Regions from separate parts of the Homo sapiens genome. Here regions 2, 3 and 4 are each linked to region 1. The links come from fine-mapping of genetic effects on gene expression. A gene starts in region 1. Each other region holds a variant in brackets. All regions are shown on one strand. Distances are from middle to middle. Region 1 holds the start of SPECC1L (sperm antigen with calponin homology and coiled-coil domains 1 like). Region 2 overlaps SPECC1L (sperm antigen with calponin homology and coiled-coil domains 1 like). Region 3 overlaps UPB1 (beta-ureidopropionase 1). Region 4 overlaps SPECC1L (sperm antigen with calponin homology and coiled-coil domains 1 like).

Evidence for each region.
Region 2: its variant is fine-mapped to the expression of SPECC1L in whole blood (INTERVAL, PIP above 0.99).
Region 3: its variant is fine-mapped to the expression of SPECC1L in monocytes after LPS (Fairfax 2014, PIP 0.95).
Region 4: its variant is fine-mapped to the expression of SPECC1L in whole blood (INTERVAL, PIP above 0.99).

Annotation. Positions count from the first base shown.
Region 1 is chr22:24,267,168-24,275,273 of GRCh38, reverse strand. It overlaps SPECC1L (sperm antigen with calponin homology and coiled-coil domains 1 like), which reads right to left and starts at 4,443. Exons shown (of 17, transcript NM_015330.6): 1 at 4,291-4,443. It overlaps SPECC1L-ADORA2A (SPECC1L-ADORA2A readthrough (NMD candidate)), which reads right to left and starts at 4,457. Exons shown (of 20, transcript NR_103546.1): 1 at 4,291-4,457. It also overlaps the pseudogene RPS10P29. RefSeq lists enhancers at 101-150, 3,985-4,064 and a silencer at 4,125-4,654.
Region 2 is chr22:24,388,345-24,396,450 of GRCh38, reverse strand. All of the region lies in intron 14 of SPECC1L (sperm antigen with calponin homology and coiled-coil domains 1 like), which reads right to left. The region is part of intron 15 of SPECC1L-ADORA2A (SPECC1L-ADORA2A readthrough (NMD candidate)); the gene reads right to left. It overlaps LOC105372960 (a long non-coding RNA gene), which reads left to right. Exons shown (of 2, transcript XR_938082.3): 2 at 2,115-2,237. Among named protein-coding and RNA genes, the nearest start is that of ADORA2A, 35 kb to the left of the region's middle. The variant T/G (reference allele first, on the strand shown) is at 3,722.
Region 3 is chr22:24,528,367-24,536,472 of GRCh38, reverse strand. UPB1 (beta-ureidopropionase 1) reads right to left here. Exons shown (of 10, transcript NM_016327.3): 10 at 8,083-8,106. Among named protein-coding and RNA genes, the nearest start is that of GUCD1, 23 kb to the left of the region's middle. The variant G/AG (reference allele first, on the strand shown) is at 3,390.
Region 4 is chr22:24,372,200-24,380,305 of GRCh38, reverse strand. The region is part of intron 14 of SPECC1L (sperm antigen with calponin homology and coiled-coil domains 1 like); the gene reads right to left. The region is part of intron 15 of SPECC1L-ADORA2A (SPECC1L-ADORA2A readthrough (NMD candidate)); the gene reads right to left. Among named protein-coding and RNA genes, the nearest start is that of ADORA2A, 51 kb to the left of the region's middle. The variant G/T (reference allele first, on the strand shown) is at 4,352.

The DNA.
Region 1 (8,106 bases):
TTCCTCTGTAACACTGCCGTGCCCAGCACTGTACCAGCACCCCAGCAGAGTCAACAACTTTCTGTCAAGCCACACACTTACGGTCTCATTGTCCAGTGGAGGCCGCAGACGAGACATAGTGTGCCAAATCCCAAATGCACAGGGTGCCAGACAAGTCTGCAGGAGGCAGGAGGACTAGGGAAGCCTTCCAGGCAAGGTGATGCCTGAGCTGAGTTGTTTTTCTTTTGAGTTTGGAACATTAATTTAATCGGAGGAAAACAAGGGACATGAAAAGGGCAAGGAAATAAGAAAATGAGCTGAGTTTTGAAGGCAATGATCAGATGAAGTGAGAGAAGAATATTCCAGCAGAGGGAGACAAGGAGACTGCAGAGATTTCAAGGGGCCAAGAGCTGTTCAGTGCAGCTCAGTGAAGCACCTAAACAGAGGTAGGGGAAGGAGAACAGGGGTCAAAGCCCAGTATTGAAGTGTTCTGGATACCAAGCTAAGGAGACCTTATTACGAAGGTACTGGGGCTGCTGAAGGGTTTAAATGGGAAAGTGATTGTGAACAGATTAATAGTTTGGAAAGATACAGGCAGAAGTAAACCTCTGGATTTAACCAAAAAATAAAGGACAGAACCACAATGAAGATGTTTGGAAAAGATCAGGAAAAACACTGTTAAAAGATATTCACTCTCTTCTCTTATTTACAGATTTCCTTTATGGAATACCAAATTATTCTTTGAAAATAGAGAACTCAGAAGTGGCTGAGAGCAGTCAGTCAGTCTTCAGAATGTAAAAACTACTATTCTGAAGAAGTAGATATTACATTATTAATTTCATTTCAAGATGCTTTAAAAACGTGCCTTTTGATACACTGCAGGTTTTTTAAGAGTATGTCACAATAACTCTAAATCTTACTTGAAATTAATAGAAGAGCACTATAAATTTTAAAGGCTTCACAGACACAGGGATCATCTGTTATGTTCACTTTGGAACAGATCATAATTGTCCCTCCCTCTCAACATACCCAAAATACGTTGTTTAAGGCTACTTTCCTAATGGTCATGTTATTTCACAGTAAAAGACTGAGGTCACAATGATTTCTGAGCTGACAGAAAACCCCATGGGGGTTCTTTACCTCGCATCTAGTCTATTCAGTACTAACAATTCCAACCACCAGAAAGAATTTCCCTGCCTAGGCTTATTTGTTGGCACAACACAAAAAAATCTCCTGGGGCTGGGTGAGGTGGCTAGTGCCTGTAATCTCAGCACTTTGGGAGGCCAAGGCAGGCGGATCACCTGAGGTCGGGAGTTCCAGACCAGCCTGACCAACATGGAAAAACCCTGTCTCTACTAAAAATACAAAATCAGCCAGGGGTGGTGGCACATGCCTGTAATCCCACCTACTTGGGAGGCTGAGGCAGGAGAATCGCTTGAACCTGGGAGGCGTAGGTTGCGGTGAGCGGAGATCATGCCATTAGACTCCAGCCTGGGCAACAAGAGCGAAACTGTCTCAAAAACAATTATATCTAATAAAAAAGATCTATTTAACAATGATCAGAATAGGAACATCTTTAATGCCATGCAAATTTAACAGCTTTCTCAGTGGATTTCTCAGTAGACTGTGACCAATGATCTCAAAATAAACTCATATTTACTCTTAAGAAATACTCTATATTTGAATCTTCTTAACAGCAAAAGCCCCAGGAACTTTTTCCTGAACTCCCTAACAGCAGCAGGAAAACAAGAGATTCTCGGCTCTCTTTATTTTTAAAAATCACAATAACTACCCTTGCATTTACTATTTACGTTTACCATATATCACCATTTACTATCACCATCATTTCATAAAAGATGCTTTATTTTAACACCAAGAAAGCAGAACTTTTTTAAAGAAAAGATAGTCCTTCAATTGAATAAATTGAATTGTATAAAAGACTCCCAATATTGTCCTTTTTTTCTTATTTCTGTTCCCTTACTGAGCTGAGCAGTTTGCATAATACCACACACAGGTTAGTCATGTGATTTAAATATGTATATGATAGTAATTTTGATACTATCACTTAAGTCATTCGAAATATCAGATGCACTGTGTGTCAAGTCAGTTATAGAGAACCACTGCTTCAGAGAAATCACATCTGAGGAAGAAACACCGCAGATACACCTCCTAAAAGTTCACCTTTGAAACAGAAATTTTGATACAAACTTCACTTTAACTACAACTGTAATTGTAATTATTACAGTTATTCTCCACTCACTAGATACTGTACTTGACACTCACGTTATTTAGTTGGCTACCAACGTGCACCTGTGATAAAGCTTTCCTATGGCACAACATTCACTTTCTTACTGAAAATGTCAAGAAAACCCCTACACACCTGCAACCATTAGGAAGCATTCTCCAGCTATCAAAAAAGTCACTGAATCGGCTAAGCGACTCTGTGTGGTATACACTAAATCAAAGGGGAAAAGGTGTTTTTTTGGAGGAAAAAAATACTGGATTAGCCATTTATTGAAACAATTTTACCCACAACAATACTTCTCCTTTCACTATATACCCTTCTATGTTGGTTTGGTTATTTTACAACATACATGTATATTGTAATAGCTGTTTTTTTTTTTTTTTGAGACAGAGTCTCACTCTGTCGCCCAGGCTGGAGTGCAGTGGCGAGACCTCGGTTCACTGCACCCTCTGCCTCCTAAGCAATTCTCCTGTCTCGGCCTCCCGAGCCGCTGGGATCACAAGCGTGTGCCACCACGCCCGACTAATTTTTATATTTTTTGTAGAGACGGGGTTTCACCATGTTGGCCAGGCTGGTATCGAACTCCTAACCTCAGGTGATCCACCCGCCTCGGCCTCCCAAACTACTGTGATTACAGGCGTGAGCCAGGGAGCTCGGCCTTGTTATATCTGGTTTTTGTTTTTTTGAGACGGAGCCTCGCTCTGTAGCCCAGGCTGGGGTACAGTGGCGCGAACTCGGCTCACTGCAACCTCCGCCTCCCGGGTTCAAGCGATTCTCCTGCCTCACCCTCCTGAGTAGCTGGGATTACAGGCGCGCGCTTTTTGTATTTTTAGTAGAGACAGGATTTCACCATGTTGGTCAGGCTGGTCTTGAACTCCTGACTTCAGGTGATCCGCCCGCCCCGGCCTCCCAAAGTGCTGGGATTACAGGCATGAGGCACCGCGCCTGGCCTGGTTTTTAATTACGAAGAAAAAATTACTATAGTCCCTTTGGTATCACCTACATTGGCAAAATTGCAGTCCCCCTCCACTCCCTGAAGCCACCAGAAATGACTGCTGTTGTCTACAAAGCCTACAGCTCTGATTTCATCTCAAGATGTGTCCTACTGGGTGACAGCAAATGCCATTTTTTAAAGGCTTGTATCTGTTATAAGCTTGGGAAATATTATCATGGCTTAAGAGGCTCTTTTGACAAAAGAAAACACTGTTCCCTGAAATCACCTGGGCTGTTCACGGGAATCTTTTCCTCGCCCTTCTGGTACTTGGACAAATGATCAAGGATATCAACAAATCAAGGTTCCCCGCATTTGAATGATCACAGAATTTTTGCGTGTTCTGTAAATGGGCTAAAACTACTGGAAACTGATTTCTTTTCGTCATCTCCAGGGCAGCTTGCCCAACGTGCCGCGACTATGATGTCTTAGACTTAACTACTTAAGGTAATACAATTACCAAATTCCTGGAAACGCAAAATTTCCTCAGACAGGTACCGGATTATTCACATCCAACCTGATGCAATTAACCACGTCTCAAGAAAAAAGGACGTTCCGTCCGCCTCGGGCGCCGGCCACAGCAGAAGCAGCACCGGCAGCAGGCCCGGGGTCCGCCGCCTGTGGCCCCTGCTCCTCCGCTCTGCGCCCTCGGGGCCACTGAACAACGCTGTCCCCGCCCCAGGCAAGGGACCCGGGCGATGGGGCGGCAGCCCCAGCCTCTCCCGGAGCGGCGGAAAGGCAAGCACGAGGGTCGCACCCGGCCTGTCTGCACACAGTCAAGCCGCAAGCGGGGTCCCAGAACCAGCTGAACCCCAACACCAACGGACGAAGGCCAGTGGGTCTCGGCGGCGAAGCCTGCGGGTTGTTCCAGAAGCCCCGAAGCCCAGAACGAGGACGGCGCGGGAAGGGAAAGGCGCAGGCGCGGGACACACTGGAGGGGCCCAGGAGCAGAGACGGCGCAGGCGCTGGGCCTGCCGGGGTCTGCGGGGACGCCCGGGCGCGGCAGCGCGGGCGGCGCTGAGGCGATAAACCAACCCGCCAGCGAACACTGCGGGAACCCGGCTGCTGCTCTTACCGCGCTGCACCGCATCGCTCCCTCGCAATCTCCTGGTTTGGGCTGGGCGGTGAGCTCACCCGGTGGCTCAGCCGAGACCCGTTGAGTCCGGCCTCAGGAAAGCAGCCTACCCCGCAGCGCCGCTTGCCGGGCCGCCCGGCCTCCCTCGCGGGCCCCGCCCTTGGCCAGCCCCTTCGCGCCCAGCAGGGCTGCGGCCGTCTGCGCAGGCGTCGTGGAGGCCCCGCCTACATTCCTTCACTGCGCAGGCGCCGCCGTCCCCCACCACCACCCCCTCCCCTTCCCCCATCTCCGGCTCGCGTCCGTCTCGGCACTGGGTCGCGCAGCCGCTCTGCCACTTGGCCGGTCAAGAAAGTAGCCGGCCAGCCGGTGCGCATGCCTCAGGTCTTGGGCTGGAGCCGGGCAAGGCGGGTCCCTTCAGAGGCCCCACTGGGCCCAGCGGAATGATGCTCAGAGTCCGCTAGTCCCAAAAGTTCTCCTCAGCGTGTTTACCGTGTGCCAAGGACTGTGCTATGCATGAGCCAGACAGCAGTGAGGAAAACACAAAGCCCTGTCCTCCTGGCACTCCCGGTACATAAGGGAACAGACAAAAAGAATAAGCGAGCAACATATATGTATATATATATGTATATACATATATATATACGTATATATATATACGTATATATATATGTATATATATACATATATATATACGTATATATATATGTATATATATGTGTATATATATACATATATATATGTATATATATATATATATATATATAAAATATTAAAGAAATTCTGGGGGAGTTCGAGTTCCATCGGCCCCCATCCGGGCCACCCTGCCACCTTAGCGGCTGCTCCTCCCCAGAATGCTGATGCCTAAGAAAAACCGGATTGCCATTTATGAACTCCTTTTTAAAGAGGAAGTCACGGTGGTCAAGAAGGATGTCCACATGCCTAAGCACCTGGAGTTGGCAGACAAGAATGTGCCCGGCCGGGCGCGGTGGCTTAGGCCTGTAATCCCAGCACTTTGGGAGGCCGAGGCGGGCGGATCACGAGGTCAGGAGTTCAAGACCAGCCTGGCCAAGATGGTGAAACCCGTGTCTACTAAAAATACAAAAATATTAGCCAGGCGCGGTGGCAGACACCTGTAATCCCAGCTAGTCGGGAGGCCAAGGCAGGAGAATTGCTTGAACCCAGGGGGCGGAGGTTGCAGTGAGCCGAGATCGCGCCCCTGCACTCCAGCCTGGGCGACAGAGTGAGACTCCTCTCAAAAAAAAAAGAATGTGTGTGCCCAACCTTCCTGTCATGTAGTCCCGAGGCTACTACGTGAAGGAACAGTTTGCCTGGAGACATGTCTACTGGTACCTTACCAATGAGGATATCCAGTATCTCCGTGATTACCTTCATCTGCCCCTGGAGATTGTGCCTGCCACCCTACGCCGCAGCCGTCCAGGGACTGGCAGGCCTCGGTCTAAAGGTCTGGAGGGTGAGCGACCTGCAAGACTCACAAGAGGAGAAGCCGACAGAGATACCTACAGAAGGAGTGCTGTGCCCCCTGGTGCCGACAAGAAAGCCGAGGCTGGGGCTGGGTCAGCAACCGAATTCCAGTTTAGAGGCAAATTTGGTCGTGGACACCGTCAGCCACCTCAGTAGAATTGGAGAGGATTATTTTGCATTGAATAAACTTACAGCCAAAAAGACTTAAAAAAAAAAAAAGAAAAAAATTGTATTATGTCGCAAATGAACCTGTTGCAATGATCATACAGGTTTTTTCCTTTGATAGTTTGTACTACTTTAATAGTTTTTTCTTTTATTACATAATCTTAGTTTCCTAGGAAAACCCCAACTTGGTCGTGATACATGTTTAATCCATTGCTGGATTATTTGCTAATATTTTATTTAGCGTTTTTGCATATATGTCCATAAGAAGTTAGTCCATACTTTTGCCTCCTTGTACTATTTATGTCTGGTTTGGTTTTAAGCCTATACTAAATTCACAGTGAGTTGGGGAGAATTCCATTTGCTTCTTTTTCTGAAAGATTATCTAGGCTGGGCACTGTGGCCTACGCTTGTAAAACTAGCATTTTGGGAGGCCGAGGTGGGCGGATTACCGGAGGTCGGGAGTTCAAGAACAGCCTGGCCAACATGGTGAAACCCCATCTCTACTAAAAATACAAAAAATTAGCCGGGCACACCTGTAATCCCAGCTACTCTGGAGGCTGAGGCAGGATAATTGCTTGAACCTGGGAGGCAGAGGTTGCAGTGAGCAGAGATCACGCCACTGCACTCCAGTCTGGGCTACAAAGCGAGACTTTCTGTCAAAAATAAATAATTAATTTTTAAAAATTATGTAGAAGATAAAAACTTTATGTTCTTTTTAATGTTTGCTGTCCATAAAATCATCTGGGCCAGGTACTTTTCTTTGGTTTTGTTTTTTTGTGAGATTTTTGAGGGGATGGGATACAGATTTTTTTTTTTTTTTTTTTTTTTTTGAGACGGAGTCTCGCTCTGTCGCCCAGGCTGGAGTGCAGTGGCACCATCTCGGCTCACTGCCAGCTCCGCCTCCCGGGTTCACGCCATTCTCCTGCCTCAGGCTCCCGAGTAGCTGGGACTACAGGCACCCACCACCAGGCCCGGCTAATTTTTTGTATTTTTAGTAGAGATGGGGTTTCACCATGTTAGCCAGGATGGTCTCGATCTTCTGACCTTGTGATCCGCCCACCTCGTCCTCCCAAAGTGCTGGGATTACAGGCTTGAGCCACTGCGCCCGGCCGGGATACAGATTTTAAAATAAACATTCAATTCCTTTGATGGTTCTAGATCTAGACAAACTTTTCTGTTTCTCCCTACTTCGTTTTTATGAAGTTATATTTTTCTTTTGAGACAGAATTTCTCTGTTGCAGTCACGTGATCTTGGCTCACTGCAACCTCCTCCTCCCAGGTTCAAGTGATTCTCCCGCCTCAGCCTCCCAAGTAGCTAGGGTTACAAGCATGTGCCACCACGCCCAGCTAATTTTTGTATTTTTGGTAGAGTTGGGGTTTTGCTATGCTGGCCAGGCTGGTCTCGAACTCCTGAGATCAGGTGATCCACCAACCTCGGCCTCCCAAAGTGCTGGGATTACAAGCACCCCACCTGGCCTGAAGTTGTATTTTTCTATAAAACTGCCTGTTTTGATATTTTAAAAAATCACTGGCATAACGTGGTTTATGTAATGTCCTTATGATTTTTGTCTTAATACTGTTTATTTATTTTATATATTTATTTAGAGATTGAGTCTTGCTCTATTGCCCAGGCTGGAGTGCAGTGGCCTGATCTTGGCTCACTGCGACCTCCGCCTCTCAGGTTCAAGCAATTCTCGTGCCTCAGCCTCCTGAGTAACTGGGATTATAGGCACCCACCACCACACCCAGCTAATTTTTGTGTGTGTGTTTTGTTGTTGCTGTTGTTGTTGTTTCTTTTTGTGAGACAAAGTTTTGCTGTTGTTGCCCAGGCTGGAGTATAATGGCGCAATCTCGGCTCGGCACAACCTCCATCTCCCGGGTTCAAGCAATTCTCCTGCCTCAGCCTCCTGAGTGGCTGGGATGACAGGCATGCGCCACTACACCAGGCTAATTTTATATTCTTAGTAGAGATGGGGTTTCTCCATGTTGGTCATGCTGTTCTCGAACTCCTGACCTCAGGTGATCCGCCCGCCTCAGCCTCCCAAAGTGCTGGGATTACCAGGGTGAGCCACCACACCTGGCCATTTTCATATTTTTAGTAGAGACGGAGTTTCACCATGTTGGCCAGGCTGGTCTCAAACTCCTGACCTCAAGTGATCTGTCAGTCTC
Region 2 (8,106 bases), 120 kb before region 1:
TGGCAGACGCCTGTAATCCCAGCTACTCAGGAGGCTGATGCAGGAGAATCGCTTGAACCCGGGAAGCAGAGGTTGCAGTGAGCCAATGCACTCCAGCCTGGGTGACAGAGTGAGACCCTGTCTCAAAAACAAAAAACAACAACAAAAAAAAAAAACCACAGAAAGTTCTTTGAGGGCAAAGGTCATACTCTAGACTGCATTCTGTTCCTCCTTGTATTTAACTACCTCTCTGGTTGTGCACAACAAGTGTCAAATATGTATTTCATGACTGGTTTAGAGCATTGAAAGAAAAATTTCCACAAGTTTAGATGCCTAAAGGAGAGAGCTAGCATTGCAAAGATGCATCCGCTGACAGTTCCCTGCAGGAGCTATAAACCCAAAGAATCACTCTGTCACTTGACACCCAAGGCCAAGAGCAGAATCTTGCCTTACTTGATAACTTGAGGTCTAACATCTAGCCAAAGAAGATCAAAGCCTTTTTTTAATCCGTATTTTCTCTGGGCCAGGCTTGGTGGCTCACACCTGTAATCCCAGCACTTTGAGAGGCCAAGGGGGTTCTCAAACTATAGACTGCTTGAGGCCAAGAGTTCGAGACCAGCCTGGCCAACATGGTGAAACCCTGTCTCTATTAAAAATGCAAAAAAATTAGCCAGACGTGGTGGTGCATGCCTGTTGATCCCAGCTTCTTGGGAGGCTGAGGCACGAGAATTGCTTGAAACTGGGAGGCAGAGGTTCCAGTGAGCTGATATCACGCCACTGCACTCCAGCCTGGGAGACAGAGCAAGATTCTGTCTGAAAAAGAGAAAAAAAAATTATTTTCTCTGAAGAGTATTGAGATAAAAAGTGTGGATCCCCAAATCCTTTCCTTTGCAATCCATGAAAATGTCTCTTAAACAAATCTGCTCTTCTTCCTCTGTCTTTTCTGGAGCAGCTGTCATTGACCCTGATGAAATATCTCTTCCTTGGAGAAGACATGTCCTCTTCCTTTCCCCTCAGTCCCTCTCTGGTATTATGGGGCATCTTGTATGTGTCAGTGTGACCAGGCTGTTTTCAAGGTGCTCTTAAATCCTTCACTCTATCACATGCAACCTTCCCAACTTAAGTCCACAGGCCAAAAAGTTCACCTCAATCCATACCTCACATCGTATTGGGAAATGAACTCAAAATGAAGTACAGACCAAAATGTATAAAAAATTATACTTTCAGGAGAAAATCGTTGTGATCTTGGGTTATGCAAACATTTTTTATTTACAACACAAACACATGTATGCTTCATAAAAGAAAAAATGTATAAATTGCATGTTATTAAAATTAAGAATTTCTGGCCAGGCGCTGTGGCTCATGCCTGTAATCTTAGTACTTTGGGAGGCTGAGGCAGGCAGATCACTTGAGCCCAGGAGTTTGATACCAGCCTGGGCAACATGATGAAACCCTATCTACAAAAACACAAAAGTTAGCCAGGTGTGGTTGTGCATGCCTGTAGTCTCAGCTACTTTGGAGGCTGAGGTGGGAGGGTCGATTGAGCCCAGGAGTTCAAGGCTGCAGTGAGCTATGATTGCACCACTGCACTCCAGCCTGGGTGACAGAGTGAGACCCTGTCTCAAAAAATCCCTCAAAACAAAAAATACAAAGAAGATATACGGTGGCAAATAAGCATGTGGAAAGATGCTTAACACCATTAGTTATCAGGCAACTGCAAAATTAAAACCAGGAAACAGCACTACACGTTCCGAATGTCTAGAGGCTGACCACATGGTCTTGGCAAGGATATGAAGGACTAGAATTCTCCTTCACTGCTGGTGGTAAAGTGACAGGGTAGAGCCAGTCTGGAAGACAGTTGGGCAGCTTCTGAAAATGTTCAACCTATACCTACCACATGATCCAGCAGCTAGTCCACTTTTCAGATGTCCTTATGCATATGCAATGGACTGAATATTCCTGTTTCCCCAAATTCTTATGTTGAAATCCTAATCCCCAATGTGATAATATAGGGAGGTGGGGTTCTTTGGGAAGTAATGCGGTCATGAGGGTGGAGTCCCCATGAACGGGATTAGTGTGCTTTTAAAAGGGACCCCAGACAGCTCTCTCATTCTCTTTATGTCTACCATGTGAAGACACAAGATGGCAGTCTGCAACCTGGAAGATGCCCTCACAAGAATCCCACCATGCTGGCATCCTGATCTCAGACTTCCAGCCTCTAGGCCTGTGAGAAATAAATTTCTGTTGTTTATAAGCCACCCAGGCTATGGTACTTTGTTACAGTAGTCCAAACTGACTAAGACACCATATGAACACCTGCACGTGAACGTTCATAGGAGTTTTGCTTACAATAAGCAATAACTGGAAACAACCCAAATGTCCATCAGCAGCTGAATGGCTTAATAATTGTGGTAAACCCAAAAAATGGACTAACACTCAGGGAAAAAAAGGAAATGAGCTACGGTTACACACAATGACATGAATGAATCTCAATGTGCTAAGTGAAAGGAGCCAGAACTCCCCTAAAATTGTACACACTATGATTCTATTTATATAAAACTATAACAAATACAAACAATATACAGCAACAGCAGATCAGTGGCTGTGTGGGGATGGGAAATGTGGGGGAGAAGCAGGATGACGGCAGTACAAAGGGGCACGAGGAAATGTTCATGGTGATGGTTTGTCTATCATGTGGTGATAGCTTTCACAGGTGTATATATGTGACATATATGTATATGTATGTCAAAAGTTATCAAGTTGTAAACTTTATACGCAATTTATTATGTCAACTATACCTCAATGCAACTATTAAAAAAAAGGAAGCCCAAGGCCACAAACACATTTAGGTACCACACAGGCTCTCTCTGTTTTAGAGCTTTTTAACTGAATGTAGTACAGGTATAAACCATGGCAGAACTGGATACAGTCCAGGCACAGTCCAAGGGACCCTGGTCAAAAGCTGATGTCTGATGGAAGATATCCTGGGTGGACGCTAACTGGCAGAAAGTCATCTTGTGTGTTCCAGGGTATAAGCTAAATCTTAGGTGAATCACTAGAAAGTCCTGCAGCTGCAAACACACCTGGCTTACATCATGTAGCATTCTTCCCTACACCACCACTTAATCTCACCCTCATATTGCCTCATCTACCCAGATTCCCTCTCATTTGTGAGGCAACATTAAAAAAGCATCATAAGGTTCTGTCAGGTCACTGTCACATTATTAGCTTCTCTAATTACTTAAGTAAGAGATAACAGTCTCTGTGGCAGATTAAATTTTCCAAAAATGACCACAGCAGTATTTCTGGCCCCACATCTTCTTCAGAAGCCTCCTATGCCCCATCAAAAGGTGGCGCCTATTTCCCTTCCCCTTGTAACTGCCTTGACAAACAGTATGGTAGAAGAGATGCTGCATGGCTTCCAAGACTGTGTCATCAAAGGTGGGGTGGCTTATGCCTGTCTCTCCCTCTCGACAACTGTCCTTGGAATGTGGCCACCACATTTTGAGGAAGCGCAGACCAAATATTGGAGAGGCTACATAGAAGTGCTCTGGCCACAGGTCTAGTGAAAGTCTCCGCCAACAGCCACCAGACCTGTAAGGGAGGGAGCCATCAGCTAGTTCCACCTCTCCAGTGGCACTGAGCTGAGTAGAGCGGAGATGAGATGAGATGAGATATCCCCACTAAGCCCCACCCAAACTGTAAACTCAGGATATAAATAGACGTCATTATGTTAAGCCAT[T/G]AAGTTTTGGGTGGTGTTTATAGATAACCAGCCTCTTTTCTACTGAATCTAAAGAGTGCATTCAGAAAGGAAACTAGTTTCTCTCTCTCCCGCCCTATGTTGTCTAATGGCTAATTACCCTTCCCATAATCATTTATCATGAGGCAGCAACAGGGCATCTTTACAAATAACCTGCTTCTCAAATGGAGAGGTCACCATAAATTGCCAGAATGACCTCAGGCTAAACTCATTTGTGAAAATCCAGAGCAATCATGTATCTAATGAAATCAACCTGTTGAACTCCAACTTGTCTGTGGAGGCCACATCCTTATGTTGTCATCCCATCCAAAGTGGATGAAGCACAAGAAAACAATGATTTCTCATGATGCAAGGAAGTCAAGAACTGTGCCTGTTATTTGAGATGATACATAAAGATTATTTGACCCAGAGAATTTAATGATTCTGCTTTTAGCAAAATAATTAGGCAGCTCTTGAAAATGTTACTTATCTGATTTCTGTTTCTCAGCATTACTCGTAATAAAAATACCTACTTACTGGAAACTTACTGAAGAGTCTGGGACACTGCCGTGGAGGCTGGACAGCTCAGTGGAAAGAGCCTGGGGCTGGGAGCTTGGAGAGCCAATTGTATGGTCTTAGGCAAGCATGGCACCTTTCTGATTTGCAGATGTGAAATGGAAGCCCTGGGTTTGTGATTTCTAGGGGCTGTCTCAAGTCTGACTTCCTCTAACTTCTGAGAATGGAATGTGGGTGCTGATTCACATGAAGTATTTCACATTTTATCTAAGGAAATGCATCCTGAGACAATTATCTTAAAGCTAAACAAGAGCATTGGCAAACAAACCATTTTATTACATTCGGCAGGTTTTCTCCATGTCATTAGTGGAAGTTAAATGGAAAAAGAATGCAAGAAAAAGGAACAAAACCTTGAGCTAAAGGGAAGACAACCCTGTAGAGTTCCATTCAAACTGCTTAGGTCTGCCCACCGCCAGTAGCCCATCTAGTTGGTGAAGTAACAACAGGTACATCCAAGCTACTGCTGTTGCTGCCAACAGACCATGCCTCCGCCAGGGCACCATTCCTAATTCTCTTTCCAAATCCAAATGTACCGGTCCTGAATGCAGCTCTGAAAAATGCTCACAGTGAGGGGAGTGAAATGAGCATTTAAGGACTGGTGCTGTATACAAGGCCTCCACTCCTTCCCCTGTTTGGGAGGATCTAATTTGTGTCATCCAGGGGAGAAAAGCCTTGACTGAGTAGTCTCATCTACCACACACAAAACACACTGATCAAACTCATTTATGGTAATGGCACTAAGCAACTGATTTTTAAAATTACAGCCCTGAAATTTCTGGAAATAGATGTTAATAGTAGCTATCAAGATCATGTTTAAACAGAATGCAGTAAGTACACTGTGATTCTGGGAAAACTTTGTTTCCCAGCTGCTATGTTTGACATTAAAAGGAATGCCCTGAAAACAGGAAAGAGTTCTTTCACTTCACTGGGACAGAAAAGCCATCAATTAACCTCTGCTGTGTGCAGTAAAGAACACAGGCCCGGCCGGGCGCAGTGGCTCACACCCGTAATCCCAGCACTTTGGGAGGCCAAGGCGGGCGGATCCCAAGATCAGGAGATTGAGACCATCCTTGCTAACAGGGTGAAACCCCGTCTCTACTAAAAATACAAAAAATTAGCTGGGTTTGCTGGCATGCGCCTGTAATCCCAGCTACTCAGGAGGCTGAGGCAGGAGAATCGCTTGAACCCAGGAGGCAGAGGTTGCAGTGAGCCGAGATCGCTCCACTTCAGTCTGGGCGACAGAGTGAGACTCTGACTCAAAAAAAAAAAAAAAAAAAAAAAAAAGAAAAGAAAAAAAAAAAAAAGGAACACAGGCCCAAGAAGAGCCCTGAGATACAAGCTGTTTCTATTCCCCGGTGGCTCCAAGAAATGTGAAGCTCTTGGCCAACCGCTGAGCCTTCGGGATGAAGATACCTTGTCATCAGGACAGAAAATGATTAGACTCCAGGAGTTTTTATTGCTTCACTGTGGAGAACTTATGAGTAGACACAGTCCACATAAAGAATGGGTGGGACGCAAGGCTGGCCATTCTTGTTCCCCTTTGTTCAAGTATTTTTAACCCCTGGAACACACTGATATTTACAAACAATAAGATCTTTCTGTATACTTAGTTTCCATGCAAGTGACAATGTAAAATGAAAAGATTTAGACTTTCAACCTAGATTTGATTCAGATCAAAACTCTTATCTACTGCCAGCACCTTTTTTTATTTTTTAACTCTGGGAAGTAATTCCTGTGACCTAAGATTCCAGTTATAGAAGAGGAAATTAAACCAACTAAGCTCTGCTTGGACTATGAGGAATTCCTAATGCATTATTTTAACAGCATTCTGTCTACTGGAAGAACTCCCAGCTTTCTCTAACCTTTCTCATGCCACACACCCCTAGCCCAGTCCTAACTCTGATCATGGAGAGAGGACGCTAGGAAGGTGGAAGGGTGAGAAAAGGAAGGATCAGGGGAAGAGCGGCATTCTGGAATGTTTTCCAGAGAGGAAACTAAAGTCCTCTTTTTTTTTTTTTTTTAAGGGTTGGGGTAGGGGATGAGTAGAAATAACATTCCCCTTCAAGGCTGGACACATAAGGGAAAGAGGGATGACATGTGAAAAGGAAGCGTCTCTATTCCCTTGTCTTTTCCAGTATGTAGTGTCTAGGAAGAATCAGAAGAAACTTGTGCTTTTGGGCCCAATCTCTTTAGGTTAGGAAAGTCACCTTTATATAAGAATCTACTCAACCCACAGGCTTTGAAATGGTGGCAATGAGTAGTGGCCTAAGGGGGTGTGACTAACACCAAGTGCTAATCTCATGCCTGGGTTGTGCAGGTAGCAAGTACCATACTTAATACTTCATACAATTTATAAAGAGCACTTCCTTTTTCTCCTATTTGTCTCCTATTTCTATTATTACAAAGGAAGCTGTGAAGGACTGAGCTATTTTTATCTGTTCACTAGTTCTCACTCTATTGATTCTTCAATCTATGGGGACACACAATTCTGGGAGAATAAAGGTAAGTACTTCTTTTCCTTGCTTAGGAAAGAGGGTAGGGAAAATAAAAAAGAATCCCAAAATGACGCATGCTAGGAAACTTCTGGCTGCAGTAGAGCAAAGAGGTAGATAGATCCTTTCCCTAAAAAAAAAAAAAACCCGAAAGCCCCCACAAACACAAATATAAACCTGGACAAAAGTGTCACAAATTACCATTTTAGGGCAAATCAACCAAAGGCAAACAACAAACTAAGAAGTATTATTGGCCAGACACAGTGGCTCACATCTGTAATCAGCACTTTGGGGGGTTGAGGTGGGTGGATCACCTGAGGTCAAGTTTGAGACCAGCCTGGCCAACATGGTGAAACCCTGTCCCTACTAAAAATACAAACATTAGCCGGCCATGGTGGCATGCACCTGTAATCCCAGCTACTTGGGAGGCTGAAGCAGGAGAATCGCTTGAACCCAGGAGGCAGAGGTTGCAGTAAGCCAAGATCGCACCATTGGCTCTCCAGCCTGGGTGACAAGAGTGAAACTCTGTCTCCAAAAAAAAAAAAAAAAAAAAAATCAGTTATAGAAAGGAGTGAAGTACTAACACATGCCACGTGGAAGAACCTCAAAAATATGGTACATGAAAGATGCCAGTGACAAAAGACCACAAATGATTCCAGTTACATGAAATGTCTGGGACAGGCAAACCCATGGTGGCTGCCTAGGGCTGTGAGGTGGTAAGAATATTCTAAAATTCATTGTGATGATGATTATACAACTCTGTGCATATACTAAAAACCACTGAACTGTCCAACTTGGTGAGTTGTATGGTACGGGAGTTGTAAAAAAAATAACACAACTAAATCTTAGAAACTCAACTCTCAGAAGTTAACTTTTATAAGATATCTGTGGTAGGCCCATAAGCTGTTGATGTCTTAATCTCTGGAACTTATGAACATGTTTATTTACATGGCAAGAGAGTTTGCAGATGTGATTAAACTAGTTCAACCATTGTGGAAGTCAGTTTGGCGATTCCTCAGGGATCTAGAACTAGAAATACCATTTGACCCAGCCATCCCATTACTGGATATATACCCAAAGGATTATAAATCATGCTGCTATAAAGACACATGCACACGTATGTTTATTGCGGCACTATTCACAATAGCAAAGACTTGGAACCAAGCCAAATGTCCAACAATGATAGACTGGATTAAGAAAATGTGGCACATATACACCATGGAATACTATGCAGCCATAAAAAATGATGAGTTCATGTCCTTTGTAGGGACACGGATGAAGCTGGAAACCATCATTCTCAGCAAACTATCGCAAGGACAA
Region 3 (8,106 bases), 260 kb before region 1:
CACAGAGGTTCTCCTAAATGCCAGGGCCTGGTTCACTGATGGTCTGATGAAGTGGAAGCCTCATGGTGTCCACAGGGCTGCTGTGGCTGTTCACCCTCAGAAACAGCTGCGCAGAACAGAAAATTGATGAGTAACTCTGCTCAGTAGGCCCTGAGCCAATACTCCTCTTGGTAACCCTTGTTATATTTTTACTGACTCTTGGGGTGTTGCCAATGGCCTAGGTGTTCGGTCTGACACTTAGAAAACCTCAACTGGCAGATTAAAGACACCCATCTTTGGGGTCATGAACTATGGAAATAAGTTTTGGCTGTGATTGCTCTGTCTGGGTCACACATGTAGATGTCCATGGTTGAAGCCTGTTCTCTGATTAGACCAACGGAAATAAGGCTGTTGAGGGAGCCTGCACTAGCCATATTGCTACTGGGATCCATCATTATGCCGGACATGGCAACACATCCACCACCATGGACTGGGCACAATGGAAAATACTATTTGTGTATGTGTGTGGGGGGGTTTTGCTTGTTTTTTTGAGATGGAGTTTCACTCTGTCGCCCAGGCTGGAGTGCAGTGGCACCATCTCGGCTCACCACAACCTCCGCCTCCCAGGTTCAAATGATTCTCCTGCCTCAGCCTCCCAAGTAGCTGGGATTACAGGCACGCACAACCATGCCTAGTTAATTTTTGTATTTTTAGTAGAGACAGCGTTTCACCATGTTGGCCAGGCTGGTCTCGAACTCCTGACCTCAAGTGATCCACCCACCTTGGCTTTCCAAAATGCTGGGATTACAGGCATGAGCCACCGCACCCAGCTGGAAAGGACTATTTCTGATGCAGACGCTACCACCACATACCAGGCTGTGATTCCTACCAAAGGTTGGCCCATTTCTCTTGCATAGGAGGAGGTCATCTTGCACAGGGCGTGGCCTCAGCCTACTCATGGCAGATCAACTCCATTAGACCTTTGACCTCTTGGGGCTATTGGTGGTGCCTTACCACTGTTGACACTTTTTCAGGTTATTGGATTGTTGCAGTCCTATCAACCAGCTCTGGGCATACCACTGCAACCCCTGAAACTAATCTGTGTCATGTTTTGGCTCTCTGGACCATCTGCAGTGTGACAATGGTGCACCTTTTATCATAAAAGCCACTCAACAATAGTGGTATTCAAAAGATCTTCCACACTCCTGCCATCATGAGATTCTGGCATTGTTGAGTATTGGAATGGCTTCCTCAAAAACTGGGCCGGGTGCGGTGGCTCATGCCTGTAATCTCAGCACTTTGGGAGGCCGAGGCAGGCAGATCACCTGAGGTTGGGAGTTCGAGACCAGCCTGAGCAACGTGGAGAAACCCCATCTCTACTAAAAATACAAACATTAGCTGGGCATGGTGGCGGGTGCCTGTAATCCCAGCTACTCTGAAGGCTGAGGCAGGAGAATCGCTTGAACATGGGAGGCGGAGGTTGCAGTGACCCGAGATCACGCCACTGCACTCCAGCCTGGGTGACAGAGCAAGAGTCCGTCTCAAAAAAAAAAAAAAAAAAAAATCAACTCAAGGTCTCTGACTCTACTTTTCTCCCTCCTTCCTGGTCCACACACTTTCATAAAGCATTTTGTTTTGTTTTTGTTTTTCAAGACAGAGTCTCGCTCTGTCGCCCAGGCTGGAGTGCAGTGGTGCGATCTTGGCTCTGCCTCTCGAGTTCAAGCCATTCTCCTGCCTCAGCCTCCCAAGTAGCTTGGATTACAGGCACACGCCACCATGTCCAGCTAATTTTTGTATTTTTAGTAGAGACAGGGTTTCCCCATGTTGGCCATGCTAGTCTTGAACTCCAGACCTCAAGAGATCCACCCGCCTCAGCCTCCCAAAGTGCTGGGATTAAAGATGTGAGCTACTGCACCCCACTTTTTCTTTTTCTAAGTAGAGATGGGGTCTTGCCATGTTGACCAAGTTGGTCTCGAACTCCTGGCCTCAAGCAGTCCTCCCATCTCAGCCTCCCAAAGTGCTGGGATTTCAGGTATGAGCCAATGCGCCTGGCCCTATTAAAACATTTTGGTCACCAAATGCAGCTGTCTTTAAAAAGGCTACTTCCTAGCAAGGTGTGTCTGAATGAAGAGGTGTAGGAAGGTTATAAAGAAATATTTTTAAAATTTGGGATTCTGATCAGACTCTTCCTGGGCGTGTTGCTTGCTTGCTTTCCCCTGGCAGCAATCCCAGGCCAGCCTGGTGGGCACACCTCCTAGATGGCAGTCCAACTGTAAGGGGGTCTAGGGGCTCAAACCTGATTGTGTTTCAGCCACCTGGATTCTCTTGTTGGACTGACATGGTCTTAGAGCATAAGAATAATGACCACTTGGGCAAGTACGCTGCTCGCTGAGACCCCTTAGGGTGGCACATACAGGACAAAGTGGGGAACATAATGGGTCCCCACGCATTTTGTAAACATGCCCTTGTTCCTCTTGGACCTGACTCTTCGAATCAAAAAGTCTAGGTGCACAAAGGGGATAACTGGAAAAGGAGGTGGCTGGTACTGGTCAGTCCAGTCACCTCTTTTTCCTTAAAGAAGTGACTATAGGTATTGAAATGAGACACCGATTTGGGAGGGGGAGCAGCAATTCTGGCACCTAGACAGAAAATACTTTGGATTCCAGGAGATAAAGAGGGGGAGGCATTTATGATCTTTGTCCTTCATAATTGCCCCTGAAGACTTCCTTATGAACATAAAAAAGATCTGTGCAGCTCTCCCAAGCTTTTGCAAGCACCTCAAATTTAACTGACTGCAAAGCTGGGCATAGCGGCTCCTGCCTGTAATCCCAGCTACTTGGGAAGTTGCAGGGGAGGATCGCTTGAGGCAAGGAATTCAAGGCTGCAGGGAGCTGTGATGGCACCACTGCACTCCAGCCTGGGCAAGACTGAGAACCTGTCTCAAATAAAACAAATTTAACGACTGTGGGTTCTGCCTTGCCCCAACAACAGATGGCTTTGGCCACCATTTGGTTTGCTCACCATTCCCATTAACCTTACCAGAAGTCCACTGGAAAGAGCAGGGGATGTCCCTGGCTCCTGCACCTTCCATGAAAATCACCTGTGATACCATCAGTTGTCGTTCCCATCCCTATTCCCATAGACTCCACTCAGCCATTCTGTGGAGAGAACGAGTGCCACCTTGCTAGTGGTATGGACAAATGGGATAGATTGGACTAACTGCCCTCAGGCTGTCCTTCCAAATACAAGGACTAGACTGAATTATTCAAACTGGGAAGCTACTTGGGAGGCTGAGGCAGGAGAATCACTTGAACCTAGCAGGGAGAGTGCAGTGAGCTGAGATCGCGCCACCGCATTCCAGCCTGGGTGACAAGAGCGAAACTTCAGCTCAAAAAAAAAAAAAAAAAAAA[G/AG]AAAGTAAACTGGGAACCTGAAGCCCCACCAGGTGGCCAGGACCTGTGCTCCAACAAATATAGGTCCCACTTGGGGGACCTCCAACAATTATAAATATTTTCTAGGGGTAACGATATGTGCCCTTGTGACTGTACTTGTGTGGAGGCTAAACATTAACTCATCATCCTCCCCAAAATAGTGTCTTGCCCCTTCAGGGTGGTCAAGAGACCTTCAAGTGTTTAAGCAAATACCACCAATAGATTATGTAGCCCACAGACAACTGTGGAGATTTTTTTTTTTTTTTTTTTTGAGATGGAGTCTTGCTCTGTCATGCAGGCTGGAGTGCAGTGGCGTGATCTCGGCTTACTGCAACCTCTGCTTCCCAGGTTCAAGCGATTCTCCTGCCTCAGCCTCCCAAGGAGCTGGGATTACAGGCGCCTGCCACTACGCCCAGCTAATTTTTTTGTACTTTTGGTAGAGACAGGGTTTCACCATGTTGGCCAGGCTGGTCTTGAACTCCTGACCTCAGGTGATCCACCTGCCTTGGCCTCCCAAAGTGCTAGGATTGCAGGCGTGAGCCATCGCACCCAGCTGACAACTGTGAAGATCTTTCTAAAGTGAGGCTGCCCTTGTTTACTCAGGGGAACTTCTTGGACTGATAATTGACTCATTCCTTATGTGCACTTATTATCCCTATGATGGGAGTCCTCTGATTAGGAAAGGTGATGCAACATTTGTCTCTAACTTTAGTTGGGTGATCAGTGGTACCACCTTGCCCCTGGAAGGCATTCAGGTCAGCGGCAACTCACTGGCCAGGGTGGAGGTTGTATGGATGACAGAGTTGCCCTAGGCTTCCTCCCTGTGAACCACCAGTGGAGATTATGCAATATCTAATATATCCTGCTGTACCTGGATTAATGACTTGGGCTGAGTGGAAAGGTCAATATTTGAGAAAGTCACCTGGCTTTCTTAGGTAGACCTTGATGGTTTATAGGATTTGTTCAACCTGTTGAGTTGAAAACCCTGGGGTCAGCCGGGCGCAGTGGCTCATGCCTGTAATCCCAGCACTTTGGGAGGCCGAGGTGGGTGGATCACGAGGTCAGGAGATCAAGACCATCCTGGCTAACATGGTGAAACCCCATCTCTACTAAAAATACAAAAACAAAATTAGCCGGGTGTGGTGGTGGGTGTCTGTAGTCCCAGCTACTCAGGAGGCTGAGGCAGGAGAATGGTATGAACCCGGGAGGCGGAGCTTGCAGTGAGCCGAAATCGCACCACTGCACTCCAGCCTGGGCGACAGAGTGAGACTCCGTCTCAAAAAAAGAAATAAAGGAAAAAAAGAAAACCCTGGGGTCAGGATTGGGGTTAATATTGCAGGTTGGACTCATTCTGTTGAAATGCTGTTCATTAAATTAAATTCTGTGAGACAAGCTGAACTGATTTGCTCTATGCCTATTGTCAGATTAATCAGTGACTGATAAAATGGCATACCCATAAGAAAATTGCCAGAAGCCAAGACAATGTGGAAATGAGGGGTGGATATTATTGGGAGATAATTGTCCACAGGTCTCTCACATTTCTGTATGTGTCTTGTCAGCTAAAACTATGAAGGCCTTTGTTCTAGACTATCTTTTCAAAGAAGCTGGCATAGCCTTGGAAGATAGACACAGGTGCTTTGCATCTACAGAGCAAAGGACAGGTGTTCTTGTGACCTTGGTGGAGATAATGCCTCCTGTTAGTGCAAAGGGAAGGCATACCAACCATCCAATATAAAAGACGCAAATTCTGTTAGCTCTCTTCCCTCCTCCTTTCCTCAATAAAACCCACTGCATGTGCAGGATTCACTTGGTCCTCTTTGTGTTGCCCTAAGGGAACTGGGCTTGGGAAATGGCTGTAAGAAAATGCTGGTACTCTGGCTACTGCTATTGCTGTAATAAACTGTCCTTTGTGTCTGACCCAAGAGTGTCTTGTCTGGTTGGGTGCAGTGACTCACGCCTGTAATCCTAGCACTTTGGGAGGCCAAGGTGGGTGGATCACCTGAGGACAGGAGTTTGAGACCAGCTTGGCCAACATGGTGAAATCCTGTCTCTACTAAAAATACAAAAATTAGCCGGGTGTGGTGGCAGGAGCCTGTAATTCCAGCTACTCAGGAGGCTGAAGCAGGAGAATCATTTGAACCCAGGAGGCAGAGGTTGCAGTGAGCTGAGATTGCACCACTGCACTTCAGCCTGGGCAACAGAGCGAGGCTCCATCTCAAAAAAAAAAAAGTACATCTTCTATGAGCATCTGTGAAACTACTGCAGTAGGCTAACCTAGCTTGCAAATAGAGTAAAATCTCTGACTATTCAGTTTTTGATCTGATGTTTGTGCTTTTTAATATTTCTTCATGACTCAATCTTGGTAGGTTTTGTTTTTAGGACTTTGCCTATTCATTCATTCACTCATTCATTCATTTATTTATTTTCGAGACAGAATCTCACTCTGTGTCGCCCAAGCTGGAGTGCAGTGGCACAATCTTGGCTCACTGCAACGTCTGTTTCTCGGGTTCAAGTGATTCTCGTGCCTCAGCCTCCCAAGTAGCTGGGAGTACAGGCGCACGCCACCACACCCAGCTAATTTTTGTATTTTTAGTGAGACAGGGTTTCACCATGTTGGCCAGGTTGGTCTTGAACTCCTGACCTCAAGTGATCCACCGGTCTCGGCCTCCCAAAGTGCTGGGATTACAGATTTGAGCCACCATGCCCAGCTGGAATTTGCCCATTTAATCTAGGCTATCCAGTTTGTTTCCATACAACTGTCTGTAGTACTTTATAACCCTTTTTACTTCTGTAGAATTGGTAGTAGTGTCCCGATTTTCATTTCTCCTTTTAGTAATTTGACTCTTTTTCTTACTCAATCTAGCTAAAGGTTGTCAATTTTGTTGATCTTTTTGACGAAGCAACTTTTGATTTTGTTGACTTTCTCTTTTTTTCTTTTTCTATTCTCTAGCTCTGTTATCTTCCTTCTAGCTCTGTTCTTATTGGCTTCCTTCTGTTAGCTCTTTCATTTGCTCTTTTTTTGTGCCTTAATGTGTAAATAATGTGTACAGTTCAGTTGGTTTTGTTTGTTTGTTTTTTTTTTTTTAGAGACAGGATCTTGCTCTGTTGCTCAAGCTAGAGTGCAGTGGTGCCATCATAGCTCACTTAGCTCACTGCAGCCTCAAACTCCTGGGCTCAAGCAATCCTCTCACCTCAGCCTCTGGAATAGCTGGGACTATAGGTGTGCACCACCATCCCTGGCTAATTTTTAAATTTTTTGTAGAGGGGCCAGGCAATTCTCCCACCTCAGCCTCCTAAAGTGCTGGAATTATGGGTGGGAACCACCATGCCTAGACTCTTCTTTTTAAATGTAAGCATTTATAGCTATAAATTTCTTTCAGTACTGCTTTTGCTGTATCCCACAGGTTTCGGTGTGTTTTTGTTTCATGTGTCTCAAGATATCTAACTTCCCTTATGATTTCTTTTTTGATCCATTGGTTGTTTAAAAGTGTGTTGTTGGTCAGGAAGGGTGGCTGATGCCTGTAATCTCAGCACTTTGGGAGGTTGAGGCGGGCGGATCACTTGAGACCAGGAGTTCAAAACCAGCCTGGCCAACACGGCAAAACCCTGTCTCTACTAAAAATACAAAAATTAGCCAGGCATGGTGGCATGTGCCTGTAGTCCCAGCTATTTGGGAGGGTGAGGTACGAGAATCACTTGAACCTGGGAGGCGGAGATTGCAGTGAGCCACAGTTGTGTCAGAACAAGACTCTGTCTCAGAAAACAAAAAGTGTGTTAATTTTTTTTTTTTTTTTTTTGAGATGGAGTCTTGCTCTGTCTCCCAGGCTGGAGTGCAGTGGGGCAATCTTGGCTCACTGAAAGCTCCATCTCCCAGGTTCACATTCTCCTGCCTCAGCCTCCCGAGTAGCTGGGACTACGGGCACCTGCCACCACACCTGGCTAATTTTTTGTATTTTTAGTAGAGATGGGGTTTCACTGTGTGAGCCAGGATGGTCTCAATCTCCTGACCTTGGGATCCACCTGCCTCGGCCTCCCAAAGTGCTGGGATTACAGGCGTGAGCCACCGCACCCGGCCATTGTTTAATTTTTAAAACTTTCAACTACTGATTTCTAGTTTTGTTCCATTGTGATGGGAAAATACACTTTTATGATTTTAATCTTTAAGTTTACTGGGAATTTTTTGTGGTCTAATACGTGGTCTGGTTTATATTTAATAATGCCTTAGCCCTTTTTTTCCTATTAATTTTTTTTAAATTTTATAGAGACAAGGTCTATGTTGTCCAGGCTGGTCTTCAACTCCTGAGCTCAAGTGATCCCCCTGTCTCAGCCTCCCAAAGTGCTGGGATTACAGATGTGAGCCACTGTGCACAGCCTCCTTTTTTTCTTTTGGGCACACTGAAGTTCACCTACTCCACCCCAGATTCCGGCAATAAAGCTATAGCCTGGCAGGAAGGTGGCCTTCCAGAACTGAGAATTTCTAGGGAGAAATTCTTGAGCCCAGCCACCTGTTATCTTACCGGTGAGAAAACTGAGGGGTCAGAAGGCTTCATCCAAGATTGCACAGGGGCCCACAGGCCTGCAGGCCATGTACACTGAACCACTGCAATTTCTTGTCTGAGAGACTGCCCTGTAGCATCAGCAATGATCACCAGGAAGCAAAAACCTCCACCACAGATTCATTCAAATGTTTACTGAGCAT
Region 4 (8,106 bases), 110 kb before region 1:
CTGGCTCCAAAGGATGGGCATGATCATCCATTTATAGCTAGACAGGCAAAGGGCACTGGCACTTCTCATACGATTCTTGACAAATTAAGAACACTATTAGATATGGCTTTCAGTTTTAAAAGATTATGCATTTCAGACCAGGTGCAGTGGCTCACGCCTTTAATCCCAGCACTTTGGGAGGCTGAGGAGGGTGGGTCACTTGAGGTCAGGAGTTCAAGACCAGCCTGGCAAACATGGTGAAACCCCATCTCCACTAAGAATACAAAAATTAGCTGGGCGGGGTGGCAGGTGCCTGTAATCCCAGTTACTCTGGAGGCTGAGGCAGGAGAAGGAGATGGAGATGCATCCCAGGAGATGGAGGCTGCAGTGAGCCGAGATTGTGCCATTGCACTCCAGCCTGGGTGACAGAGTGAGATTCTGTCTCAAAAACAAAAACAAAAGATTATGCATTTCAGGCTGTCCAATGTTAACTTACAGATCTTGCAATGAAAGAACCAGTATCCTCTTTGCTTCTAAAGGGAAGGAACAGATAGATATCTGTCTCACAGGAAACAAAAGCCAACTGCCTCCCACAAGCCATACATATGTATCATCAAAGAAGTGTCGATAGGAAATGAGAAAGCAGAGAATTGGGTTTGTAGCCAAGACTGTCAAGTGTACAAAAAGAATTTTCCTAATGTATGATTAACCATCCTATATCATATTTCCCCCTGCATTTTAAGTACCAAGTAAATGGAAAAAACTTCAAATTATTAGTTTATTTGTATGTATATATATTTCTCTCTATATATTAAGGTAAACATAGAAGAATCCAAGAGGCATGGAATAACTGACTTAATGTTTGAATTATCTCCATTTAATCAACCTGATACATGGGAAAGTTCTATAATCAAGAGGAAGTAAATTTTTTTTTTTCTTTTTTCTCGGAGACAGGGTCTTGCTCTGTTGTCCAGGCAGGAGTGCAGTGGTACAATAATGGCTCACAGCAGCCTCAACTTCCCGGCTCAAGTAATCCTCCTGCCTCAGCCCTCCAAGTAGCTGGGCTGAGGTAGGAGGATTGCTACCATGCCTGGCTATTTTTTTTTTTAAATTTTAATAGAGAGAAGATCTCACTATGTTGCCAACGCTGGTCTCAAACTCCTAATCACAAGCGATCCTTCAAGGGGGAAGTAATTTATAATGTTCTAAAATTACTTAATTTAAGTTATTGTCTAGCAAAATTTAAAACTTAGGTTATATGAAGACACCTAACAGCATGGAAGAAAATACAGACACACCTCAGATGGTACTTCATCTTCTTGTGCTTCATGGATCCTGCGTTTTTTACAAATTGAGGGTTTGTGGCAATCCTGTATCAAACAAGTCTGTTGGTATCATCTTGCCAACAGTATGTGCTCACTTCAATGTCTCTGGGTCAAGTTTGGTAATTCTTGCAATATTTTAAACTTTCTCATTATTATTATAACTGTTATGGTGATGTATGACCAGTGGTCTTTGATGTTACTATAGTAATTGTTTTGGGGTGCCATGAACTGTGCCCATATAAGACAGTGAACTTAATCTATAAAGTTCTGTGTGTTCTGAATGATCCACTGACTAGCCATTCTGTCTCTCTCCCTCTCCTTGGGCTTCCCTATTCCTTGAGATATAAAAATATTAAAATTAGGCCAATTAATAACCCTACAATGGCCTCTAAGTGTTCAAGTAAAAGGAAGACTCGCACATCTTTCACTTTAAATCAAAATCTAGAAATGCTTAAGCTAATTGAGAAAAGCACGGCAAAAGCCAAAAGGCTGAAAGTTAGGCCACTTGTGCCAGTTAGCCAAGTTGTGAATGCAGAGGAAAAGTTCTTGAAGGAAATTAAAAGTGCTATACCACTGAATATACAAATGATAAGATAGCAAAACAGCCTTATTGCTGATATGGAGAAAGTTTCCGTGCTTTGAATAAAAGATCAAACCAGCTACAACATTCCCTTAAGCCAAAGCTGAATCCACAGCAAGGCCCTAACTCTCTTCAATTCTATAAATGCTGAGATTGGTGACGAAGCTGCAGAAGAAAAGTTTGAAGCTAGCAGAGGTTGGCTCATGATATTGAAGGAAAGAAGCCATCTCCATAACATATAAGTGCAAGGCGAAGCTAGCAAGTGCTGATACAGAAGCTGCAGCAAGTTACCCAGAAGATCTAGCTAAGATCACTGATGAAGGTGGCCACACTAAACAACAATTTTCAATGTGGATAAAACAGCCTTCTATTAAAAGAAGATGACATCTAGGACTTTCATAGCTACAGAGGAGAAGTCAATGCCTGGCTTCAAAGCTTCAAAGGACAGGCTGTCTCTCTCATTAGGGCCTAAGCAGCTGGTGACTTTAAGTGGAAGCCAATGCTCATTTACCAGTCCCACAATCCTAGGGCCCTTAAGAGTTATGCTACATCTACTCTGCCTGTGCTCTATAAATGGAACAACAAAGCCTGGATGACAGCACATCTGTTGACAGCATAGTTATCGAACATTTTAAGCCCACTGTTCCTTTCAAAATATTACTGCTCATTGACAATGTAACCAGTCAGCCAGGAGCTCTAATGATGATACGAGGAGATTAATGTTGTTTTCCTGTCTGCTAATACAACATCCATTCTGCAGCTCATAGATCAAGGAGTGGGCTTAAAATGTTCAATAAACTATGGGGTCTTGCCTCTTCAAGCCAAGATCATGGACTTTAACCAAATGACAAAGGGGAAACAAATGAAGCAGCTTAAAGAGAAGTAACAAGATCAATTTCAAAAACACTTTGGTAGTAGGCTAGAAGATGGACAAGAAGATGAGAAAACTACATACGTCCATGTAAAAATTTGTTGTACACAAATGTCTACAACAAACCAGGCATGGTGGGATGTGCCTGTAGATCCAGCTACTTGGGAGGCTGAGGTGGGAAGATCACTTGAGACCAGCCTGGGAAACATAGTGAGACCTCATGTCGAAAAAAAAAAGTTCTTAACAGTGACATTTATAATAACCCCCCCAAAAGTGTAAGCAACACAAACACCATCTTGAACAGAAGAATGGATAAATATGTGGCATATCCATACAATGGAATATTGTTTGGCCATAAAAAGGAATGAGGTACTAGTATATGCTACAGCATGGATGAACCTTAAAAACATGATGCTAAGTGAAAGAAGCCAGTCACAGAGGACCACATATTGTGTGATTCCATTTATAGGAAATGTCCATAATAAAGAAATCTATAGGACAGAAAGTAGATTAGTGGTTGCCTATAGTAAATAGAGAATGAATGCTAATGGGTATAGGATTTCTTTATGGAGTGGTAAAAATAGCCTAAAACTGGTTGTGGTAATGGTTATACAACTCTGAATACACTTAAAAAAAAAACAAAAACCCACTGAAATGTACATTTTAAGTGGCTGAATTGTATCTTGTGTGGCATATCTCAATAAAAAAAGTTCTTTCTTAAGAAAAAAAAAAAACTAGGTGATTGTGTAATTTTCACTTATGCTTGAGGTTTCAGTTCTACAACCAACTTGAAACTGCCAGTATTCACGTTCCTGCCGTTCAACAAAACTTGAGACTTTTCAGGCCTGAGTGTGGAAGTCTTTTTAGGTTGAAGTTTTATGTTCGGCTTCTTTCCCTTAGCATAAAATATTCAAAGTTCATCCAAGTTGCAGCATGTATCAGAACTTCTAATCCATGAACAAGGTATGTCTTTCCATTTATTTAGATTTTAATTTCTTTCAGCAATGTTTTGTATTTTTCAGTGTATTAGACTTGTGCCTCCTTGGTTAAATTTATTCCTAAATAGTTTATTCTTTTTGATGCTGCTATAAATGGAATGTTTTAATTTACTGTTACTATATGTAAATGCAAGTGAGTTTTGTATACTGATCTTGCATCTTCAACTTTTCTGGATTTACTAGTTCCAACAGTTTTTATGTGAATTCTTAAAGGTTTTCTAGATATAAGCTGGATGTGATGGCCTACACCTGTAGTCCCAGCTACTCACGATGTTGGAAGTGGGAGGACCACTTGAGCCCAGAAGTCTGAACCTAGACTGGGCAACATAGTGAGACCCTATCTCTTAAAAAAATCTAGACATAAATCACATCATCTGCAAATAGAGATCATTTTACTTTTTTTCCTATCTGGATGCCTTTTCTTTCCTTTTTTCTTGTCTGTCTTAGCTAGAACTTGCAGAAAAATGTTGAATAGAAATGGTGATAAACGACATTCTTTCTTGTTCCTGATCTTAAGGGGAAAGCTTTCAGTCTTCACCATTAAGTATAATGTTAAAACTGTGGGTTTTTTTTGTTTTTTTTGTTTGTTTGTTTGTTT[G/T]TTTTGAGACAGAGTCTCACTCTGTCACCCAGGCTGGAGTGCAGTGGTGTGTTATCAGCTCACTGCAACCTCCACCTCGCAGGTTCAAGTCATTCTCATGTCTCAGCCTCCCAAGTAGCTGGCATTACAGGTGTGTGCCACTACACCTGGCTAGTTTTTGTATTAGTAAAGATGGAGTTTTGCATGTTGCCTAGGCTGGTCTTGAACTCCTGGCCTCAACTGATCACCCGCCTTGGCCTCCCAAAGTACTGGGATTACAGGCATAAGCCACTGTGCCCAGCCAACTGTGGGTTTTCATAGGTACCCTTTATTAGATTGAGAAAATTACCTTTTATTCCTAGTTTTTAAAATCATAAATGGCTGCTGGATTTTACCAAATGCTTTTACAGTGTCTAGTGAGATGATCATGCGGTTTTTTCCCCTTTATTCTAATAATATGGTATTACAGTATTAATTCATTTTCATATGTTGAACCAACCTTGCATTGCTGGGATAAAGAACACTTGGTCAGGGTGTATAATCCTCTTTAATATACTGCTGGATATTGTCATTATTTTGTCAAGGGCTTTTACAGTTTTCTTTTTTTGTAATATCTTTTTCCGTTTTTGGTATGAGAGTAATGATGGCCTCACAGAATGAGTTAGGAAGTAATATTTTCTTTGATTTTTGGAAGAGTTTGAGAAGTATTGCTATTAATTCCTCTTTTAAAATTTGGAAGAATTAACCAGTAAAGTAATCTGGTCCTGGGCTTCTCTTTGCTGGAAGTATTTTGATTACTAACTCAATCTCATTAGTTGTTATTTGTCTCTCCAGATGTTCTTGCTTCTTGAGTCCATTTTGATAGTTAATGTTTCTAGGAATTTGTCCATATCATCTAAGTTATCCAATTTTTGGCATTCATTGTTCACAGTATTCCATTTTAATCCTTTTTATTTCTTAAGGTCATTAGTAACGTCCCTTTATTCCTGATTTTGGTAACTTTAGTCTTCGTTTTCTTTTTATCTATCTACTTAGAGGTTTGTCAATTTGTTTATCTTTTCAAAGAACCCATTTTTTTTTCATTGATCTTCTCTATTGTTTTTCTATTTTCTATTTTATTTATTTTGGCTCTAATCTTTATTTCCTTCCTTCTGCTTATTTTGGGTTTAGCTTATCTTTTTTCTACTTCCTTTTTTTTTAAATTATACTTTAAGTTTTAGGGTACATGTGCACAAGGTGCAGGTTAGTTACATATGTATACATGTGCCATGTTGGTGTGCTGCACCCATCAACTCGTCATTTAACATTAGGTATATCTCCTAATGCTATCCCTCCCCCCTCCCCCCACCCCACAACAGGCCCCTGTGTGTTATGTTCCCCTTCCTGTGTCCATGTGTTCTCATTGTTCAATTCCCACCTATGAGTGAGAACATGCAGTGTTTGTTTTTTTTTGTCCTTGCGATAGTTTGCTGAGAATGATGGTTTCCAGCTTCATCCGTGTCCCTACAAAGGACATGAACTCATCATTTTTTATGGCTGCATAGTATTCCATGGTGTATATGTGCCACATTTTCTTAATCCAGTCTATCATTCTTGGGCATTTGGCTTGGTTCCAAGTCTTTGCTATTGTGAATAGTGCTGCAATAAACATACGTGTGCATGTGTCTTTATAGCAGCATGATTTATAATCCTTTGGGTATATACCCAGTAATGGGATGGCTGGGTCAAATGGTATTTCTAGTTCTAGATCCCTGAGGAATCGCCACACTGACTTTCACAATGGTTGAACTAGTTTACAGTCCCACCAACAGTGTAAAAGTGTTCCTATTTCTCCACATCCTCTCCAGCACCTGTTGTTTCCTGACTTTTTAATGATCGCCATTCTAACTGGTGTGAGATGGTATCTCATTGTGGTTTTGATTTGCATTTCTCTGATGGCCAGTGATAATGAGCATTTTTTCATGTGTCTTTTGGCTGCATAAATGTCTTCTTTTGAGAAGTGTCTGTTCATATCCTTCGCCCACTTGTTGATGGGATTTTTTTTTTCTTGTATATTTGTTTGAGTTCATTGTAGATTCTGGATATTAGCCCTTTGTCACATGAGTAGATTGCGAAAATTTTCTCCCATTCTGTAGGTTGCCTGTTCACTCTGATGGTAGTTTCTTTTGCTGTGCAGAAGCTCTTTAGTTTAATTAGATCCCATTTGTCAATTTTCGCTTTTGTTGCCATTGCTTTTGGTGTTTTAAACATGAAGTCCTTGCCCATGCCTATGTCCTGAATGGTATTGCCTAGGTTTTCTTCTAGGGTTTTTATGGTTTTAGGTCTAACATTTAAGTCTTTAATCCATCTTGAATTAATTTTTGCATAAAGTGTAAGGAAGGGATGCAGTTTCAGCTTTCTACATATGGCTAGCCAGTTTTCCCAGCACCATTTATTAAATAGGGAATCCTTTCCCCATTTCTTGTTTTTGTCAGGTCTGTCAAAGATCAGATGGTTGTAGATATGCAGCATTATTTCTGAGGGCTCTGTTCTGTTCCATTGGTCTATATCTCTATTTTGGTACCAGTACCATGCTGTTTTGGTTACTGTAGCCTTGTAGTATAGTTTGAAGTCAGGTAGTGTGATGCCTCCAGCTTTGTTCTTTTGGCTTAGGATTGACTTGGCAATGCAGGCCTTTTTTGGTTCCATATGAACTTTAAAGTAGTTTTTTCCAATTCTGTGAAGAAAGTCATTGGTAGCTTGATGGGGATGGCACTGAATCTATAAATTACCTTGGGCAGTATGGCCATTTTCATGATATTGATTCTTCCTACCCATGAGCATGGAACGTTCTTCCATTTGTTTGTATCCTCTTTTATTTCATTGAGCAGTGGTTTGTAGTTCTCCTTGAAGAGGTCCTTCATGTCCCTTATAAGTTGCATTCCTAGGTATTTTATTCTCTTTGAAGCAATTGTGAATGGGAGTTCACTCATGATTTGGCTCTCAGTTTGTCTGATATTGGTGTATAAGAATGCTTGTGATTTTTGCACATTGATTTTGTATCCTGAGACTTTGCTGAAGTTGCCTATCAGCTTAAGGAGATTCTGGGCTGAGATGATGGAGTTTTCTAGATATATAATCATGTCATCTGCAAACAGGGACAATTTGACTTCCTCTTTTCCTAACTGAATACTCTTTATTTCTTTCTCCTGCCTGACTGCCCTGGCCAGAACTTCCAACACTATGTTGAATAGGAGTGGTGAGAGAGGGCATCCCTGTCTTGTGCCAGTTTTCAAAGGGAACGCTTCCAGTTTTTACCCATTCAGTATGATATTGGCTGTGGGTTTGCCATAGATAGCTCTTATTATTTTGAGATACGTCCCATCAATACCTAATTTATTGAGAGTTTTTAGCATGAAGTGTTGTTGAATTTTGTCAAAGGCCTTTTCTGCATCTATTGAGATAATCATATGGTTTTTGTCACTGGTTCTGTTTATATGCTGGATTACATTTATTGATTTGCGTATGTTGAACCAGCCTTGCATCCCAGGGATGAAGCCCACATGATCATGGTGGATCCAGCAGCAGCTGGATTTCGTTTGCCAGTATTTTATTGAGGATTTTTGCATCAATGTTCATCAGGGATATTGATCTAAAATTCTCTTTTTTTGTTGTGTCTCTGCCAGGCTTTGGTATCAGGATGATGCTGGCCTCATAAAACGAGTTAGGGAGTATTCCCTCTTTTTCTATTGATTGGAATAATTTCGGAATGAATGGTACCAGCTCCTCCTTGTACC